Linked DNA regions of Homo sapiens. The protein of the gene in region 2 purifies or fractionates together with the protein of the main gene of each other region. This does not show direct contact. Each region holds a gene or a part of one and is shown on either strand. Other genes may lie near its edges. The genes, in order: SDF4, NUCB2, XPNPEP3, CALU, MGARP and NAE1.

Region 1 (2,785 bases), on a different chromosome or scaffold from region 2:
ACACATTTCCTCACCAGAGTCTCAAGGCAAACCACCTCTTCTTTCTTTTTTCATGAGACGGTCTCACTCTGCTACCCAGCCTGCAGTGCAGTGGTGCAGTCTCGGCTCCCTGCAGCTGTACCTTCCAGGGCTCAGGCGATCCTCCTACCTCAGAAGCTGGGACCACAGGCACCATCACCGCGCCTGGCTAATTTTTGTATTTTTTGTACGGATAGATTCTGCCGTGTTGGCCGGGTTGGTCTCAAACTCTTGGACTTAAGTCATCCGCCTACTGCAGTCTCCCAAAGTGCTGGGATTATAGGCGTGAGCCACTGCGCCTAGTCTTAGCCTCTTTCTTTTTTTAATTTTTAATTTTTAATTGTTTAAGAGTGAGGGCCTCACTGTTGCCCAGGCTGGAGTGCAGTGGTGCGATCTCAGCTCACCTGTAGCCTCCACATCCTGGGCTCAATCTATCCTCCTTGGAGGACAGAAAAATAAAGGTGTAAGATACGTTCCTGCCAGGAACGGCCCATATCATGTGACCAGCCCCCATGGGGGCGGCCTCCTGAGTGACTGGGACCACCAGTGTGTGCCACCATGCCCAGCTGATTCAAAAACATATATTTTGTAGACACAAGGTCTCCCCATGTTGCCTAGGTAGGTCTCAAACTCTTGGATTTCAGAGGGTTCAAGTGACCCGCTCGGCCTCCCCCCGTCCTGGGGTTGCAGGCGCGAGTGACCCGCCTGCCTTGGCCTCTCCCCATCCTGGGGTTGCAGGCATGAGCCCCTGTGCCTGGCCTTGACCTTCTAGAATGACGCGGAGACTTTTGAGCCTGTTGGCTCTGCCTGCTCTTTTCCCAGTTCACGTACTCTTATCTGGAGTTTGGTCCTGTCCGTTCTAAATCCTGCAAATTGGACATTAAAAAAACTAAAAGTAAGAGGATCTCCCTGTGTTGCCCAGGCTGGTCTCAAAGTCCTGGGCTAAAGGGATCTGCCTGCCGCAGCCTCCCAGCATGCCGGGATTACAGGCACAAGCCCCAGTGCCCGGCCAAATTGGACGTTATTACTTCCTTTCCAAAAGAGTGGTTTACATTTTCCTCCCCACACACGGTTCGTGCCTCCACCCCGGTCCCGCGTTCCCTGCTGTCCTGACTGCGTCTTTAAGCTTCATCCCGTTGGTCCGGCCTGTTGGCGATGTGCTTGGGGCAGGAGGCCTTGCCCGTGCCCGCCCCCCAACTCTGATTGTGTCTGTCTTTCCTTGGTGCCACTTTATTTGGGTCTTTTCTGCCCAGGACATGGCCCACCTGGACCTAGAGCTCTGTGACATTTCTGTGAAGCCTCCGTCTACCTTTGGGACTCAGCAGAGGTGTGTTTAGAATTCACTCTGCGTTTTGGGGGTCCCCATGCATGCTGAGGTGCTGTTCCCTGCCCACCCGTGTCCGATCCGTCTTGGCCTCCCCGACCTCAGGGTGCCTAGGACCCCCCGACCTCTTTGGGTATTTGGTTTCTGGCTCAGGAAGAGCAGCTGCCGGGTCCTGGAGGAGGGGCCTGGGAAGCGCTGGCAGGCGTCACTCCTGCGACCTCCCACCCCTCCCTGCATGGCTCCTGCGAGGGTCACCGCGTGAGTCCGGGGGCTGCTGTCCTCGCGCCTCAGACCTGATTCTGGGGACCGCGGTGAAGGCGTGGCAGGCGGGCATCACTCCCTTCCCCCGCCTCCATCGCTGCCTCTCTCTGGGTCTGCGTCCTCTTCTCACAGGGACAGCAGTCGTTGACTCTCCCTGATCCAGGAGGGTCTCTCCAGATCCTTCCCTAACAGCAGAGGCCCGGCTCGTGGGGAGGGACTGGGACTCAAGGCTTCTTCACCAGCCTGAGGTTGGTGCTGGGGCTCGGCGGCGGCTGTGAGAATCCTGTGCTGGAGAAAGCGTCTCTCGGCCGGCCTGTCTGGGGCGTCTGTGCCTCTCCTGGATGGGTCTCAGTTTGGCCCCGTCCATCCATCCCAGGAGCTGCGGTGGAGCAGACAGGGAGGGGTGCCCCAGGAACCACAGCCCCGTCACTCCTGTCTTCCTTTAAGTGAACCGGTCGTGTAGATGGAGGTTGTTCAGAAAGGGATAAGATGGGACGGCAGCTGGGCCTCATCCCGCAGTGAGCGCGACGCAGAGGCTGCCGGGCTTGTGGCAGGGGCTTCGGCCAGGGCAGAGTCGGGCCTCACGTGCAGGGGGCTGAGTGTGGGCCTCAACACTGGACTTGGCCACTGACTGCAGTGAGCCCCAAGATGGGGCAGGAGGTGGTGTTTCTGTCCTGGAGACCCAGGGTGGCTTGGGTCCTTGGGATGTGTGGGGACCTCGGGGTGAGGGCCCGTTGGGGCCGGGTGGGCACGGCAGGAGAGCGGGGGCCACACACCCAGAGGCAGTGCCGTGTCCCGGCTGGGAGGGTTCCTGGGAAGCTCTGCTCAGCCCCAGTCTCAGTCATTTCTAGAAACTGTGTTTTCCTCCCTGTGACGTCACACGTGAAGGAAACGGAAAAGGGCAGTGAGTCCTTCGCCCCGCGGCGCCGTGCGCACGTCAGCCTTCAGGGTGATTCCGCTCCTCCAGAGGGGCAGGCGCGGGTGTGGGGGGTGGGGCCCAGGCCCATCCTGAGGGGTCCCAGGCATGAGGGGCTCTGAGCTGTGTCCTGGGGTGGTCTGGGCCATGGGGAGGTTCTGGATCATGTCTTGAGAGGTCTGGGCTGTGTGGGGGGTCCAGGCCATGTCCTGGGGGTCTGGGCTGTGTCTGTGGGGAGTCAGGGCCATCCATGTATTGGGGGTCTG
Region 2 (3,973 bases):
GTTTTCCTGCACCTTTGCATTATGCATCTGGTGCTCTCAGGGCAGAAAACTTGTCTTTCAGTTTGTAGGTGGCCAGAACACAAGGAGCCACACCCTAACATGATGGAGGGGACTGTCTCCAGATAGCATGGTCTTTCATCTAGTATGCAATAATGGGCTGGATTTCTGGTGGTTTCTCTTCAGGGAGAGAGGGGTGAGTGTTTTCTCTCTCGGAAGAAGAAGGTACACAGAATTTAGGTAGCCAACAAGGCTGGCTGAGTTTAAAATCCAAAGTTGCCTACCAAACATTCCCTCTTCCCTTCTTCCTTAGTAAAAGAATCCAACTTTTAGCTGGTCACATTGCCACATTGACTTCTCAGCCTCCCTAGCAGCTAGGTGTGGCCATCAGTGTGACCCAGTTCTGGTCGAAACATAAGTTCAGGTGCTGCTGGTTCTGGAAAATGGCCTCAGGGAAGCTAACTCAAGCAGAGAAAGTCCAGTTTTCTTGCCTTCCCCACTGCCTCCAGGAGCAAACTTGAACAGTGAGAGTGAGGTAATCTGAGGATAAAAATCATGCACTGAGGATAGCAGAGCAGAAAGATAGGAACCTGGACACCACCTACTTCTAGACTTATGTAAGAAGAAAAACTCCTATTTAGTTTAAACCACTGTTATCTTTGTTTTTTCTGTTATATGTAACATAACCTAATCTTAAATGATAAAGTATAGAGCAAAATAAAAAAGAATGAAAAATGACCTGAAGTGGTAGCAAAAGTGATTCAGGTGAAGAATTTCTAGCAGTTGAGGTTGCCAAAACTAGAAAAACGTTACCAGGAAACACAGGGAAATACTGTGGCCTTTCCAGAATTGTTAATATCAAACAGACATTTATTGAAAGAAGGAATGATAAGCACCCATAAAAGAATACCTATGTTTACGAGTAAGTGAGAGCAATCTAATTTAAAAGCAAGAGGCAGAGTTTTCTCACTTAAATAGTTCCTAATAGTTTCACTAAATTATGGCATAAAGCCACTTAATTAAATCATTAAAGGAGAACAAAAAAATAAATAAAAGAGCCGTGTGAATGTGAGAGCAGAGAGCAGACAGTGAGTTTGTTTTCTTCCTGGTTCTGATAAACTTCAATCCTTTAATATCTGTGTCCCAAAAAAAGTGTTTTCATTTAAAAAGTATCTCCCTTTATTTCAAATATGCTTTTAAAATATTTATTGAGCAGAGAAAAAGGAAGGGAGCTAAAAAGATGAAATAGATGTTGAGTTAACAGCTTTCTTCCAAGTTCTGGTGGACTTCAGACTTTAAATGTCTGTTGGAAAAAAGAAAAAAGTTCTTATTTTAAAAGTATCTTCCTTTATTCTAAATGTTCCTTCATATACAAATATACTTGTTTTAAAAAATATGCTTAGCTAATCATAGATCACAATTTTAAAAAACATATTCTCTGGTAAGATTAATATAATTAGAAAGAATTACAAATAAAGTTGAAATAAATCATTTTACCATAAATATGGTTATCAAATTATACAAATGATACAGCACTTAAAATTTGCTGCTACATAAAACTTTTGGAGGCATTTTCATTTTTCTATAATCTAAATTGCTCTAATACCACAAAAAATACACAAAAAATAACATAACATCTTAATGATTTGAAATTATATTTGTAATAAATGTGGATTTCAATTGATAAAATAATTTATTTTCCTAAATAAATAATCAAACAAAATTACACACGTGGCTCAAACTTCAATTCTCCAGCTGGCCCTGATGGAGGAATTCCTTGTTGTAATTTTTTTTGTTCCATCTGCTGTATGACCTGGTGAATGGAAAATGAAAGTTAAAAGTATAACTTGATTTTCTATCATATGTGTGACCTTTGACAAAGCACAACAAAGTAAATGAAAATTGTTTTCTAAAACAAAGATATTCAAACTATAAGATTTAGATTTGACTAGGTGCAGTGGCTCACGCCTATAGTCCCAACAATTTCAGAGGCCCAGGTGGGAAGATCACTTAAGGCCAGGAGTTCGAGACCAGCCTCGGCAACACAATGAGACCTGGTCTCTACAAAAAATATTAACATTAGCCAGGAACACTGGCATGCACCTGTAGTCCTAGCTACTGGGGAGGCTGAGGTGGGAGGATCACTTGAGCCCAGGAGTTTGAGGCTGCAGTGAGCTATGATCACAGCACTATACTCCAGCCTGGGAGACAGGCTGTCTCAAAATAAAATAAAATGAAATAAAATAAAATTTAGATTAATATTCCACAAAACAGTTTTAAAGTATTAAAATTTAAAATACTATAGTATAGCTATAGCAGTGTACTATATAGTACAATGAAATATGTTACAAAAACACAGGCTTTTAACAAAGCACCTAAAATCTTTTTAATGCCATAATCTTTTGACAAAATGCCACCTGATGATATTCCAGCTTCTGAGCCTCCAGTTGATCATGCTGACGTTGTAGCTCTTCTTTTTGTTTCTGAAGCTCATCTGCCTTCTTCTTAAGTTCATTTTCTTGTAAAGCAATAATATTTTCATATTCTTTTAGTTCTTCCTCTGTGAAGAACTGTTGCTGATCTAATGTCTAAAAGAAAAAAAATGAGGAAAGAATAATCTCAAAACTACAACAATAAAGTCTGATTTAGCTTTAAAATTCTATGGTTAGCAAAGTATAAAAGAGTATCTATAGGATTACGCCTTTGGAGGTAAGAAGGAAGGGGAAATAAGTAATATATATTTATGTACTCATTTGAACAAAAGGAAAAACAGGAAGAAAAACTCAAGAGATTCTCTTCTGGGATTGACAACTAAAGGCAAAGAGTGAGAACTGGGTAGAAGAGGCAAAGAGAACGTGGGAAGAGAAATAAAATTTGTCATTCCCCCCAACCCTCACTGAAACATGAAATTTTAACAGCTGTCTGCACACAGAAAAGCACAAGAAGCAAACATCAGGTGAGCACTCACAGTACCTGGTTTCAACTTCATATCACCTGCAAAGACACTGAGAAGGGCAAAAGAGACAGTCTTGAATCACCTATGCCACCTCTCTCCCATTCCCTCGTGGCAGACCTGCAGCACAGAGAGTCTGTGCCCTCTGGGGAGGGAGCATAGCGACTGGGGGACTTTACATTGAACTCAGTGCTGCCCTGTCACAGCAGAGAATAAAGCTGTGCTGGGCTCCACCACTGCCCATGCATAGGAGCATTTGAAGCAGCCCTAGCCAGAGGAGAATCACCCATCCCAGCAATGGGCACTGAATTTCCTGGCAGGCCTCACCATGCGGGCTGAAGTGCTCTGGGGTCCTAGGTAAACTTGAAAGGCAGTCTAGGAAAGGAGGACTGTAATTCCTAGGCAACTCCTAGTGCTAGGCTGGGCTTAGAGCCAGTGAACTAGGGTAGCAGGTGACCAGGGGAGATACCAGCTGGTGAGGCTAAGGGAACGCTTGTGCTACCCCTCCCCCAACCTCAGGCAGTGCAGCTTGTGGCTATGAAAGTGACTCCTTTCTTGAGGAAAGGAGAGGAAAAAGTAAAGAGGGCTTTGTTTTGCATCTTGGATACCAGCTAAGCCATAGTAGGATAGGACACCAGGCAGAGTTGTGAGGACCTGATTCCAGGCCCTAGCTCCCAGGTGACATTTCTAGACATACCCTGCTGGCCCAAAAGGAAACTGCTGCCTTAAGGGAGCAGTCCTGGCAGGCTTCATCACTTGCTAAGTAAAGAGCCCCTGGGCCCTGAATAATCAGCGGCAAGACCCATGGAGTATGCTGTGGGTCTTGGACTGAGACATGCTGGCTTCGGGGTGACCCAGCACATTCCCAGCTGTAGTGGCTATGGCGAGAGACCCCTGTTTGAGGAAAGCAGAGGGAAAGTAAAGGCGATTTTTGTCTTGCACCCTAGGTACCAGCTCAGCCACAATGGGGTAGACCAACAAGCAGTCTTTTGGAGTCCCTGAGTCCAGGCCTTGGCTCTTGGA
Region 3 (3,500 bases), on a different chromosome or scaffold from region 2:
ATAAATATGATTTTAGCCAGGCACGGTGGCTCACGCCTGTAATCCCAGCACCCTGGGAGGCTGAGGGGGGTGGATCACCTGAGGTCAGGAGTTCGAGACCAGCCTGACTAACATGGTAAAACCTTGTCTCTACTAAAAAAAAACAGAAAAATTCCCCGGGCATGGTGGCGCGTGCCTGTAACCCCAGCTACACGGGAGGCTGAGGCAGGAGAATTACTTGAACCTGGGAGGCAGGAGTTGCAGTGAGCCGAGATGGTGCCATTGCACTCCAGCCTGGGCAAGAGCGAAATTCTGTTTCAAAAAAAAAAAAAAAGGAATGGTGACCGAGAAGTACTTTTGAGAAATTTATTTTACATGAGATTGTAACTATACTGAATTAATAAAACTTAGACAGTAGAACATGACAAGTAGCAACTAATGTAAGAAAAAAGCTAGAAAGAAAATGATTCTATGCCCCACATTTATGTGGATTTTGAAGACATAAGAAAGTTCAATGAATTGAACAGGCTAATTATCTATAAAATGGAAAACATTTCTATAAATAAAAAGAATTTAATCAAATGTATTAGAACTTACATATTCAAATGAGTATTTTCTTCCAAAAGAGGCTTTACAGGAAACAGTCTAATATATTTTATGATTGTGAAAAACATTTTTGGAATTCTCTTTTAGAAGCTAACTTCAGATATGATTTGTAACCCATGTAAGAAAAATCAAACAAAAACTTTATAATTATACATTATCTTGACCTAAAATCAGTATTTTTAAACTTGAGCATCTATCTTATTTTCCAAATAAGATACTTCAAAAAATAAAATACTTCCCAGAGCTAAAGTTTTTTAAGAATTACTAAAGATAGTTTATAATGTGGTGTAGGTTCTGAAAAAATTCCCAGAAGAAAAATCTCAAAACATTCGGATTGATTAAAATTTCACCAGAATAACTGTAGAGAAAGTAATTTCTTTGAGGGACAAGAACTCAACTATGGCCAGGCACGGTGCCTCACACCTGTAATCCCAGCACTTCAGGAGGCTGAGGTGGGAGGCTCACTTGAGGCCAGGAGTTCAAAACCAGCCTAGGCAACAAAGTGAAACTCCATCTCTACAAAAAAATAAAAAAAAATTAGCCAGACATAGTGGTGTGCCCAGGTAGTCCCAGTATTCTGGAGGCTGAGGCAGGAAGACTGCTTGAGCTTTGGGGTTCGAGGTTGCAGTGAGCCATGAGTGTGCCACTATACCTACATCCCAACCTGGGTGACAGAGTGAGACCCTGCCTAAAAAAAAACAAAAAAAGAACTCAACTGTATATGAACCACAAAAGATCTGTTAAAATGCAGATTCTGATTCAGTAGATAGGGGATGGAGGCCTGAGATTTTAATTTCTATTACATATTATGCATTTTTAATTTTAATATGCATTACCAGGTGATTCTGATGCTGTGATGCATGGATCGTTCTTGGAGAACAGTACCTCCTTTTGAAGAGCTGGCAAGAGCACTAAGATAAGAAGTAGTTGTCAAATATCAAGAAGCTGGTCAGTAATCTTGAAGAGTGGTCCATGCCCATCCTGTCCTTAATTTATTTATTTTTTGGAGATGGGGTCTCACTACGTTGTGCAGTCTGGACCTGAACTCCTGGCCTCAAGCGATCCTTCTACCTCAGCCTCTCCAGTAGCTGGACTACAGACGTACACCACTGTGTCTGGCTTATCCTTTGCTTTAAAAGAAAATTCTCTGTGAGATTTCAAACTAGGATAGGTAACAGTCTCCATTAATGAATAATCCAGTGAACATGGAGTTTTTTTTTAATTGAAATGTTCTAAAATTCATTGTGGTGATGGTTGCACAATTCTATGACTATACCAAAAACTCTTAAATTATATACTTTCATTTTATTATTTTTTTTGAGATGGAGTCTTGCTCTGTCGCCTAGGCTGGAGTGCAGTGGCGGGATCTTAGCTCACTGGCTCACTGTAACCTCCTGCAAATGAATAAATGAATCTTTTTTTTTTTTTAAGACAGTCTTGCTTTGTTGCCTAGGCTGGAATGCAGTGGCATGATCTCGGATCACTGCAACCTCCACCTCCCGGGCTCAAGTGATTCTCCTGCCTGAGCCACCTGAGTAGCTGGGATTACAGGCGCCTGCGACCATGCCTGGCTAATTTTTCTATTTTTAGTAGAGACGGGGTTTCGCCATGTTGGCCAGGTTGGTCTTGAACTCCTGGCCACAAGGAACCTGTCTGCCTCGGCCTCCCAAAGTGCTGGGATTACGGGCGTGAGCCAATGCACCAGGCATAAATGAAATCTTTAAAGAAGCTCAATCTTCTGAAAAAGACTTTACATTTCTTTCATGGTGCTCATGGTCTTTTCATGGTGGTGCTACGATAACAAAATTAAGGACTTGTCTAAACAGGCAAGAAAGGTTTTAATCCCAATCTGGTTTGTAATGTGACTTCTGCTCCCATTTGTTACCTTTCATTTTTGGTAGAAGATGTTGAAATTCTTCTAGCGTATAGGCTTCGTCTACTCCAGTTAGAGCTATTGCTCCATCAGTGCCAGATCGCGGACCATCCCAAAGTTCTCGACTGGGATCTCGCCGAGGCACAAAAAGTATGGCTTTGTGTGATGGTAATTGTTTGCCAGGGAGGCTCTGAAGGACAAGAATGCTATCAGGCTCTTGGAATCCACATAGGTACAGGAAATTGTTGTCTTGGTGGAAAGTATAGGGAATATCGTTGCTCATGTAGTATGTAGGGTTGGAGAGCACAACCACTGTCTGGTCTGTCCCACTCTGCCCTTGAGCTTCCTTCTGGATCAGAGACATTAGTTTGTGTCTGCGAAGTGCATATTCCACCTGAGATAGTCCTGGAGTTACCTCCCCTAGAAATGACAAATAAAAGGGATGCTTTACATTTCTGCAGTGCCAAAGTACTTAAGGTAGTTTAATATTAGATGGAAATACTCAAGTCCAATTGTTCAATTTATGCCAAATCTCCTCACAGCACATGGAGAATTAAGGAGATAACCAGGTTTCAAACTTGTATTCCACTGCAAAAATTTGGAAGAAATGATAGTTGAATGTGGCCCCGCCTGAAATCTGGAATCATGGACCCCTTAGATCTCTTCCAGGTCTTTGGCTCATTCTTTTACTCACTCAGTTATATTCATTGAATATAATTTTTTTTTTTTTTTTGAGACAGAGTTTCGCTCTTGTTGCCCAGGCTGGAGTGCAGTGGCATGATCTCGGCTCACTGAAACCTCTGCCTCTCAGGCTCAAGCAATTCTCCCACTTCAGCCTCCCGACTAGCTGAGGTGGTTCACGCCTGAAATCCCAGCACTTTGGGAGGCCAAGGCAGGCAGATCACCTGAGGTCAGGAGTTCAAGACCAGCCCGGCCAACATGGTAAAACCTCATCTCTACTAAAAAAAACACAAAAATTAGCCATGTGTGGTGGTGCATGCCTGTAATCCCAGCTACTCGGGAGCCTGAGGCAGGAGAATCG
Region 4 (3,500 bases), on a different chromosome or scaffold from region 2:
GTCCCACTTTATAAAAGAAAGGCATATTTTCAACCATTTTGAAACTAGAGTGTAAAAAGCTCCAAGATAATGAAAAAGAAACAATTAGAAATACTAGTGTCTGGATGGGCGTGGTGGCTCACACCTGTAATTCCAGCACTTTGGGAGGCCTAGGCAGGCAGATCACCTGAGGTCGGAGTTTGAGACCAGATCACCTGAGGTCAGGAATTTGAGACCAGCCTGGCCAAAATGGCAAAACCCCATCTCTACTAAAAATACAAAAATTAGCTGAGCATGGTGGTGCGTGCCTGTAATCCCAGCTACTCGAGAGGCTGAGGCAAAAGAATCACTTGAACCCAGGAGGCAGAGGTTGCAGTGAGCCGAGATCATATCACTGCACTCTAGCCTGGGCGACAGAGCAAGACTCCGTCTCAAAAAAAAAAAAAAAAAAAAAGAAAAAGAAATACTAGTGTCAGTCTTGAGAATGCAAATGCCTGAAAAAAAATGAATAAATTCGTTTGCATGTCAAAAGGTTTTAAATTCTTTGCTTTAAAAAAAAAAACCTTGAAAAATGGCCTAATTGAGTTTTAGCTAAGGGATCATTAAACATAATTTTTGGGCTGGGTGCAGTGGCTCATGCCTGTAATCCCAGCACTTTGGGAGGCTGAGGCGGGTGGATCACTTGAGGTCAGGAGTTTGAGACCAGCATGGCCAACATGGTGAAACCCCGTCTCTACTAAAAATAAAAAATAAAATTAGCCGGGCGTGCTGGCCCACACCTGTAATCTCCAGCTACTGGGGAGGCTGAGGCAGGAGAATCGCTTGAACCCCAGAGGCAGAGGTTGCAATGAGCCGAGACCGTGCCTGTGTACTACAGCCTGGGTGAGAGAGAGAGACTCCACCTTGAAACAAACAAAACCCATAATTTTTGATGATAGATTACATGATTTCTGGCATGTAACTCAAAAGGAGTTCCAAGAACTAAGCAATATTGCTATGACAAATCTTCCATCAACTTATTTACTAATGTAAACAAGGTCTGTTAGTACTTCCTCTAAAAAATAAAAATTAGGAATTGGTGCTGAATCCCATTTCACTCTAGGGATAAGTAATTGTCATCCATGGATATGAAACTATTTGAATAAAAATGTGTCAAAGAAATGCATTTAAAAATATATAAACATAAAACGTCTGTAATAAATGTTATTTTGTTCAATTGTGTATTAATAATTGTAATAGTAACTTAACACAGAAGACTCTAAAAACACTTAAGAGCCATATCACAGAACACCATTTTCCATATTTCAATTTACATACACAATGTTCTTGCAAATAAGAATGTCAAAGTGACTAAGGCTTCAAGATAAAATATGTCAGAATATAATTCTGTTGAGGAAGTAAACTGCAAATGAATCTAACAAATAGAAGGCTGACTTGTGAGTTTGAGATCAGCCTGGACAACATGGCAAAATCCCTACAAGAAATACAAAAATTAGCCAGGCATGGCAGCATGCACCTACAGTCCCAGCTACTCGGGAGGCTGAGGCAGGAGGATGGCTTGAGCCTAGCAGATCGAGGCTGCAATGAACCATGATCATGCCACTGCACTCCAGCCTAGGTGACAGAGTGAGACCCTGTCTCAAAAAGAAAAAGAAAAAAAAGAAACAGGAGGTCGGGTGGCTGATGTCTGTAATCCCAGCACTTTGGGAGGCCAAGGCAGGTAGAGCTCTTGAGCCCAGGATTTCCAGACCAGCCTGGGCAATGTAGGGAGACCCATGTCTATAAGAATAATAATAAAAAAAATCAGCTGGGTGTGGTGGTGCTCTTCTGTGGTCCCAGCTGAGGTGAGAGGATCACTTGATCTCCCCACCTTGGAGATCGAGGCTGCTGTGATTGTGCCACTGCACACCAACATGGGCAACAGAATGAGACTCTTGTCTTTTTAAAAAAGAAGAAGAAGAAGAAACAGGATGCGTGTAAAATGTCCAAGTTGGTTAACAGTTTATTCATTTATTTTTTTAAGACAATATCATGTGGTGACTGATAAGTAGTATAAATATCCCCAAATCCCTATAAATTTAAACAAAAAAAAGGGCAATTAAGTGATGGTCACATTGTTGCTAACCAAACGCCATAACTAAAAAAAAAAAAGTACCAAAGAAACATTTCCTTTTTAACTATTATGAAATGTAAAAAATTACGGATATTTTCTTATATACCCACAATGCCACTTTCATATTTTACAAAATCAATTCCTTGGTATCATCTAATACCCAGACTGAATTTAAATTTCTTGATTATCTTTTTAAAGTTGTCGTGTCCAAATTATTCATATGAAAGACGGCAGGTAAGAAGTTGCTATGGTATCTTGTATTTAAATTTTATAGATTTCTTTCCGAATTACTTTCAAAATGTCAATGCTTATCACCAACAGAGATTATTCTTTTTTCTTCTGAGACAGGGTCTTGCTCTGTTGCCCAGGCTGGAGTGCAGTGGTACAATAACGGTGCACTGCAACCTCAAACCCTCAGGCTCAAGTGATCCTCCTGAGTTGCTGGGACTACAGGCACACGCCACCATGCCTGGCTAATTTTTTCTTTTTTTTTGTATTTTTTGTAGAGACAGGGTTGCGCCATGTTGTCCAGGTTGTTCTCAAACTCCTGGGCTCAAGTGATTCACCTGCCTCAGCCTCCCAAAGTTCTGGGATTACAGGAATGAGCTACGGCATCCGGCCCAACAGAGACTATTCTTTACAACTGTTTAAATTTCTTAATTAAATATTTCAGATGCCAACTTTAAAACACATAAGGGAATGCTGTTGGTCAAATTCTTTCAGGAGTTATTTAAGTGAACAAGTCTGAAAATGCTTGAGTTATACGACATCTAAGTTAAGTGTACCTGCATTGCATGTAAGGTATGGGAAAACACCTAAAGAGAAATCTAAATAGTTCCTGCAAGTTCTAAGCAAAGGTAATTATTTAGTCAGTGCTGCCATTTTCCTGACCTTGAGGGTTAAGGGTAGAAGTACTCCTCTGTCTTAAACTCACAAGAGAAATTCCTCACAGCAGGACTTGCCAATTTTTTCCCATGCTACAGCACATTCAGAAAATGTAGTTTGTACGGTCCACTGGATCAGGTTCCTGCCCTAGCTGTCCTGAAAGCCAAGAAGACTTACTCACAGGATACAGATTGGAAAGTTCTGAATTAGGAAATAGACACATGCTTAAAAGATATGGTTTTAAAGGAAGCTAGAATACACAATACACTACAACGTAAGCGCATTTTAAAGCTAGGTGACCATGATAAACTATTTGAATTTCTATTTTTATTTATTTTACTTTATTTTTTTGAGACAGAGTCTTGCTCTGTCGCCCAGGCTGGAGTGCAGTGGCGCGATCTCGGCTCACTGCAACCTCCGCCTCCTGGGTTCAAGCGATTCTCCTGCCTCAGCCTCCTGAGTAGCTGGGATTACACAGGCACATGCCACCACACCTGGCTAATTTTTATATTTTTAGTAGAGA
Region 5 (2,281 bases), on a different chromosome or scaffold from region 2:
GACAGGGTCTCACTATGTTGCCCAGGCTGGTCTTGATCTCCTGGCCTCATGTGATCCCTCCTGCCTCAGCCTCCCAAAGTGCTGGGATTACAGGCATATGCCACTATGCCTAGCCACTTCTTGCTTTAAACCATACTTTTTTCCAAGCTATTATTATCAATTACTATGATCACTATTTAGGGATAGAGATATTAGGGGCTTATGAATCAGTTTTAACCTGTCATGACAATAATAAGAAACAGAATATCATCAATACATATTATTGAATATAATCATGCGGTTGTTTATAATACTAATAAGCATTTGCATAGAACTTTTTATTTTAATCCCCTTTTCATATACAGTATTTTAATTAATCTTTACAATAACCCTGTGCAGTAGATATTATCAATACCCTATTTTACAGATGACAAAAATGAGATTGAGAGAGGATTAGTGATTTCTGAGTCACCAGCTAGGAACTTGGCTACTCTTCCATGCTGTCTCATATGAAAGGTGAATAGGATAGCTACTTATTTTTGTATTCTTCATATTTGCCTAAGTAATATATTCAAGTGTGTTTTTTTTTAAGTTCAAAGAGTTTACAGAAAAGCAGATCCCCCATTTTCCCTCCAAGAGGCAACCAATAGAACCAGTTTCTTGGAATCCTCCTGGAGAGTTTTTGCAAATACAATTATCTAGGCATACAACTTACCCCCCTCCTGCTCCAACCTCATTTTGCCCTAACAATAGTAGCAGACTGTATACATTGTTCTTTTTTTGCTGTTTCACTTGAGAGTCTACCTTGAAGACTGTTACACATCAGTGCATGTAGTTCTGTCTTAGGTGTTTAAACGACCGCAGTGTTTCATTGCCTTCCCACGATCTTTAAATTAATACCTTGCTTAATGACTAATTCTTAAAGGTGAAAAGGAGAATGTTGCGGAAACTGAGAAAGCAAGTTCAGAAGCCCCAGAAGAACTTATAGTGGAAGCTGAGGTGGTAGATGCTGAAGAAAGTCCCAGTGCTACAGTTGTGGTCATAAAAGAGGCATCTGCCTGTCCAGGTCACGTGGAGGCTGCTCCGGAGACCACAGCAGTCAGTGCTGAAACCGGGCCAGAGGTCACAGATGCAGCGGCGAGGGAAACCACGGAAGTAAACCCTGAAACAACCCCAGAGGTTACAAATGCTGCCCTGGATGAAGCTGTCACCATCGATAATGATAAAGATACAACAAAGAACGAAACCTCTGATGAATATGCTGAACTAGAAGAAGAAAATTCTCCAGCTGAGTCAGAGTCCTCTGCTGGAGATGATTTACAGGAGGAAGCCAGTGTTGGCTCTGAGGCTGCTTCGGCTCAAGGCTAATCTCCAGCCGGTAGACATTTCAGCAACAAATGCCATAGGGTGTCTGATAAGTGCTTTTGTGTTTTTAGTACACTTAGTTTAAAAAAAAAAAGACTTATTTTCTAGAAAACGTTAATGGGTCTTGAAGATTTTTGGCATCCACTGATAGATTTTAGGACTGAGAGACTTGAGATTGTACATTTCTTACTACTCTTCTACTGTCTGAGATCAGAATATGACATTGCAGTAAAGAGCTTAAATAGTTTCATCTTTGGTTTTTTTTTCTAGACACTTTTCTTTTATCCCAGTCATCTCTGAATTTACATTTTATATTAAAGAAATTGAGCTATCCATACAACCTGTATTTACTTTAATTTCACTATGCTTTCAGCTTACTTTATTGTATGATATGTAGGTCTAAAATATAGTTTGAGTCAAATAAAATTAGAAAAGCTTTGGTGCTTCTACTTTTTTCACTAATATTTGCATGTACAAATAATACATATTAACATACAGGTACATAACATCACATGAGAAATGTAGGCTTTCGTAATATTATTGAAGAAAGAGCATATAATCTATGGAGAACCCTGCATGTAACAATATGTATGCCCTCTCCCATCTATAGTACTTACACAGGGGACTATGTAGATATTTTCTGTTTCAGTTCAGTTCAAACAATATTTATTGAAGATTAGCACTTTGTGCCAGGAATCTTTCATTCATTCACGTGTTCAACAAATATTAGCTGAGCACTTACAACATAATAGGTATTGTTTTAAGTGCTCCCGGTTTATATTCTAGAGTGGAACCAGGTAAGAAGACAAATGAGAAAATGATATAGTGTGTTAGGTACTGATAAGTGCTAAGGATAAAAGTAACGAAAATAAAAGGATTGTAAGTGTTAGTCTGAGGTGGAAGTTGTAATTTTAGATAGGATGGCCAAAAGAGGCCT
Region 6 (3,500 bases), on a different chromosome or scaffold from region 2:
CTGCCTCAGCCTCCCAAGTATCTGGGATTACAGGCACCCGCCACCATGCCCAGCTAATTTTTTTTTTTTTTTTTTTGAGACGGAGTCTCTCTCTTTTGCTCAGGCTGGACTGCAGTGGCGCGATCTTGGCTCACTGCTACCTCCACCTCCCGGGTTCACGCCATTCTCCTGCCTCAGCCTCCCGAGTAGCTGGGACTACAGGCGCCCGCCACCGTGCCCGGCTAATTTTTTGTATTTTTAGTAGAGATGGGGTTTCACCATGTTAGCCAGGATGGTCTCAATCTCCTGACCTCGTGATCTGCCCGCCTTGGCCTCCCAAAGTGCTGGGATTACAGGCGTGAGCCACCGCACCCGGCCGCCCAGCTAATTTTTTGCATTTTTAGTAGAGACAGGATTTCACCATGTTGGCCAGGCTGGTCTCGAACTCCTGACCTCAGGTGATCCACCCGCCTTGGCCTCCCAAGGTGCTGGGATTACAGGTGTGAGCCACTGCACCAGGTCCGTCCAATCTTTTATTTCATTCTCATGCAGGCTTTAGGTTCTCTCAATTCAGGTGCAATTTCACACAACAAAGACATTTACATAACTACTGTTCCCAAGGAAACTGTTGTAAGAGACCAAAGTCGTTTATAGGCAGACCTCCATCAGCTGAGGGTTTATATAAGCCCTTTACTTATAAAATTTTAATCTTAGATGATCATAAAATTTTCATCCAGTATTCAAAACAGTGCTCTTTATTGACTCAAGAAAACATTTTTACTATGAGCCAAGCACTCTGCTAATGTGGTGATAGCCATTGGCATTGGTAGCATCACTGAGGAGTAATATCTGTGTGGGCAGTTAGGGAGTGCTTGTCAGGATAAGCTCTGGCTGCTGGTGGTGAGCCATTTAAGAGTTGAAAGTGGTGTCAACTGATGGGAGGGAACAAAAGAGTTGAAAGTGGGAGAGTGACCATGTAAACATTTTATTTTAAATGGGTCACTTTGAAGTTGAGTGGAAAGTAAATGGATTTAAAGGGGCAAAGATTGGAGGCAGTGATTGCTGTTAGAAATTTCCAGTGGCCTAAGTAAGAGAGAGTGTGTTCTTTTTCCTAATTTAGGGAAGAGAAGAAGAGAGGGTAGATAATAATGAAGGTTCAGCATTACTAGTTGTGTGCCTGCCTTTATAAGAATTATTTCATTTACTCTTTCCAAAACCTTTATAAGGTACAGATTGAGTATCCTTAATCCAAAAATCCAAAATCAGAAATGCTCCAAAATGCAAAACTTTTTGAGAACTGACATAATATTCAAAGGAAACACTCATTGGAACATTTCTTACTTCAGATTTTTGGGTTAGAGAGCTCATCTAATATGTATTTGCAAATATACCAAAAACTCAACAAAATCCAAAACACTTATGGTCCCAAGCATTTTGGATAAGAGAGATATACAATCTGTAGATACTTTAATATCTGCTTTTTATAGATGATGCTGAGGCAATGAGAGATTAAATTATTTGCCTAAGGTCACATAGTTAGCAAGTGACAGAACTGGGCCTACCTCTAAGCACTCACTGAAATTATACACTCTCCTGTCCTCTCTCATGTGGAGAGCAGTGTACAGAGTGAGATTAGGAAGTGGGGAGTTACTGATGTTGGGGCCAAGGAAGCAAGAAGTGAAGGATGCCCATCAGGTTTCTGGAGAAGAAGTCTAGGTAGATGGTGATGCTGTCTATTGAAGACCACAAGAGGAGGAAGGATAGGTTGTTAGTTGCTATCTGTACCTAGGGTTTGTCAATGTTGAGCTTTTCCAGTTAGAACAAATTGTGTTCTAAAGGAATCTTGGTTTTACTTTTACTAAAACTTTATAGTTGACTTAAGATTTCTGCATTTTACTATATGTAAATCGTACCTTAATAAAACAGTGAAAAAACCTGTGGGCCCTGTGTCCATTTAAAAATTAAAGATTTCCTAAGTTTCTATAATTCAATGTATTGTCATCAGTATTGCCAAAGAATTAAGTTTATCTTTTGAGCTGGGCACGGTGGCTCACACCTGTAATGCAAGGACTTTGGGAGGCCGAGGCAGGAGGAGCCCTTGAATCCAGGAGTTTGAGACTAGCCTGGGTGACATAGTGAGACCCTATCCCTACAAAAAAATTAGCTGGGCACAGTGACACGAGACTGTAGTCCCACCTTCTCAGGAGGCTGAGGTGGGAGGATCCCTTCAGCCCAGGAGTTTCAGCAGTGAGCTGTGATTGTGCCACTGTACTTCAGCCTGGGTAATACAGCAAGACCCCATCTCTCTCTTTTTTTTTTTTAAGTGTTAAATTTATCCTTTTGAATTCTTTGTTTCACAGTAATAGAATCTCATCCAGATAATGCATTAGAGGATCTACGACTAGATAAGCCATTTCCTGAACTGAGAGAACATTTTCAGTCCTATGATTTGGATCATATGGAAAAAAAGGTTGGTAGTGTGTGTGACCTTACATTTACAGATAGACTTAAAACATTTTTTTAACCTAAGGTTTTTGAATTACACTAAAGTGAGAAAATCCTATAAACTTCCATATTCCTGTCATCCCGATTACCCAATAACAGTATTTTACCTTGTTTTCAACATATTAATTTTTCTCCAAAATTAAAAAACTTTTTTACTGAAGAAAAGTACATATACTGAACATCTGTGTAATCACTACCCAGGTCAAGAAATTGGACATTAACCTATTCCAGGTGGGGAGATGGGGATGGTTAATGGGTACCAAAAAAAAATTAGAAAGAATAAATAAGATTTACTCCTTGAAAGCACAACAAGGTGACTATAGTTAGTAATAACAACTCAGTTATACATTTTAAAATAATTAAAAGAGTTTAATTGGATTATTTGTAACATAAAGGATAAACGCTTGAGGGGATAAATGCTATACAGATACCCCATTCTCCATGATGTGCTTATTTCACATTGCATGCCTGTATCAAAGCATGTACCCCATAAATATATACACCTAAGTACCCACAAAAATTGAAAGTAAAAAATTTTAAAACAAAAAACAGAAATAAAAAAATTCCAAGAAGTTCTCTTTATGGACTTTTTCTAAACAAATAGAAATAATGACATAACACTATAAGGCGTATATGTATTTTTTCCCACTTCCATATTAATTAACATGCAGTTGCTTATTTGGTTCATCAGAAAACAGAAAAGATCCTCCTTTCTTACTTAGGATTGGTGTCTGAAATTGAGATTTGAGCTGTGTTTTTGGGTGGCAGTCTCTGAGACTGTTTTGCTGGTATAATGGGGACAATCATAGTATATATGTGACATACTAGGTATCTGCCTCTAGAAAAATTTGTAAAGCAGTTTTTATTAACTCAGTTCATTTTCGTCTATTCACTACTCTGCATATATTAGGAGATCATAAATATTGTTGAATTTGTTGAAAACGAGATGGTACAGTGAAGAATTCATAATACTGATATTTTCTTTTATTTGTCTCTCATTTTTAGGACCACAGTCA

Evidence for each region.
Region 1: the proteins of NUCB2 (region 2) and SDF4 fractionate together in Homo sapiens (co-fractionation; one large-scale study listed by BioGRID). This does not show direct contact.
Region 3: the proteins of NUCB2 (region 2) and XPNPEP3 purify together in Homo sapiens (co-immunoprecipitation; one large-scale study listed by IntAct). This does not show direct contact.
Region 4: the proteins of NUCB2 (region 2) and CALU fractionate together in Homo sapiens (co-fractionation; one large-scale study listed by BioGRID). This does not show direct contact.
Region 5: the proteins of NUCB2 (region 2) and MGARP fractionate together in Homo sapiens (co-fractionation; one large-scale study listed by BioGRID). This does not show direct contact.
Region 6: the proteins of NUCB2 (region 2) and NAE1 fractionate together in Homo sapiens (co-fractionation; one large-scale study listed by BioGRID). This does not show direct contact.

What each region holds. Positions count from the first base shown.
Region 1 is NC_000001.11:1,219,217-1,222,001, reverse strand, and holds part of SDF4 (45 kDa calcium-binding protein isoform 2 precursor), read left to right. Parts: intron 1-1,271; coding exon of another isoform or gene 1,272-1,303; exon of another isoform or gene 1,304-2,785. UniProt on the Homo sapiens protein: May regulate calcium-dependent activities in the endoplasmic reticulum lumen or post-ER compartment. Isoform 5 may be involved in the exocytosis of zymogens by pancreatic acini.
Region 2 is NC_000011.10:17,328,739-17,332,711, reverse strand, and holds the end of NUCB2 (nucleobindin-2 isoform 1 preproprotein), read right to left. Parts: intron 2,586-3,973; coding exon 2,415-2,585; intron 1,811-2,414; coding exon 1,729-1,810; intron 1,301-1,728; coding exon 1,293-1,300; 3' UTR 501-1,292; downstream 1-500. UniProt on the Homo sapiens protein: Calcium-binding protein which may have a role in calcium homeostasis. Acts as a non-receptor guanine nucleotide exchange factor which binds to and activates guanine nucleotide-binding protein (G-protein) alpha subunit GNAI3.
Region 3 is NC_000022.11:40,881,148-40,884,647, reverse strand, and holds part of XPNPEP3 (xaa-Pro aminopeptidase 3), read right to left. Parts: intron 2,879-3,500; coding exon 2,471-2,878; intron 1-2,470. UniProt on the Homo sapiens protein: Catalyzes the removal of a penultimate prolyl residue from the N-termini of peptides, such as Leu-Pro-Ala. Also shows low activity towards peptides with Ala or Ser at the P1 position.
Region 4 is NC_000007.14:128,763,359-128,766,858, reverse strand, and holds part of CALU (calumenin isoform a precursor), read right to left. Parts: intron 1-3,500. UniProt on the Homo sapiens protein: Involved in regulation of vitamin K-dependent carboxylation of multiple N-terminal glutamate residues. Seems to inhibit gamma-carboxylase GGCX. Binds 7 calcium ions with a low affinity.
Region 5 is NC_000004.12:139,265,665-139,267,945, reverse strand, and holds the end of MGARP (protein MGARP), read left to right. Parts: intron 1-904; coding exon 905-1,347; 3' UTR 1,348-1,781; downstream 1,782-2,281. UniProt on the Homo sapiens protein: Plays a role in the trafficking of mitochondria along microtubules. Regulates the kinesin-mediated axonal transport of mitochondria to nerve terminals along microtubules during hypoxia.
Region 6 is NC_000016.10:66,817,477-66,820,976, reverse strand, and holds part of NAE1 (NEDD8-activating enzyme E1 regulatory subunit), read left to right. Parts: intron 1-2,339; coding exon 2,340-2,449; intron 2,450-3,489; coding exon 3,490-3,500. UniProt on the Homo sapiens protein: Regulatory subunit of the dimeric UBA3-NAE1 E1 enzyme. E1 activates NEDD8 by first adenylating its C-terminal glycine residue with ATP, thereafter linking this residue to the side chain of the catalytic cysteine, yielding a NEDD8-UBA3 thioester and free AMP.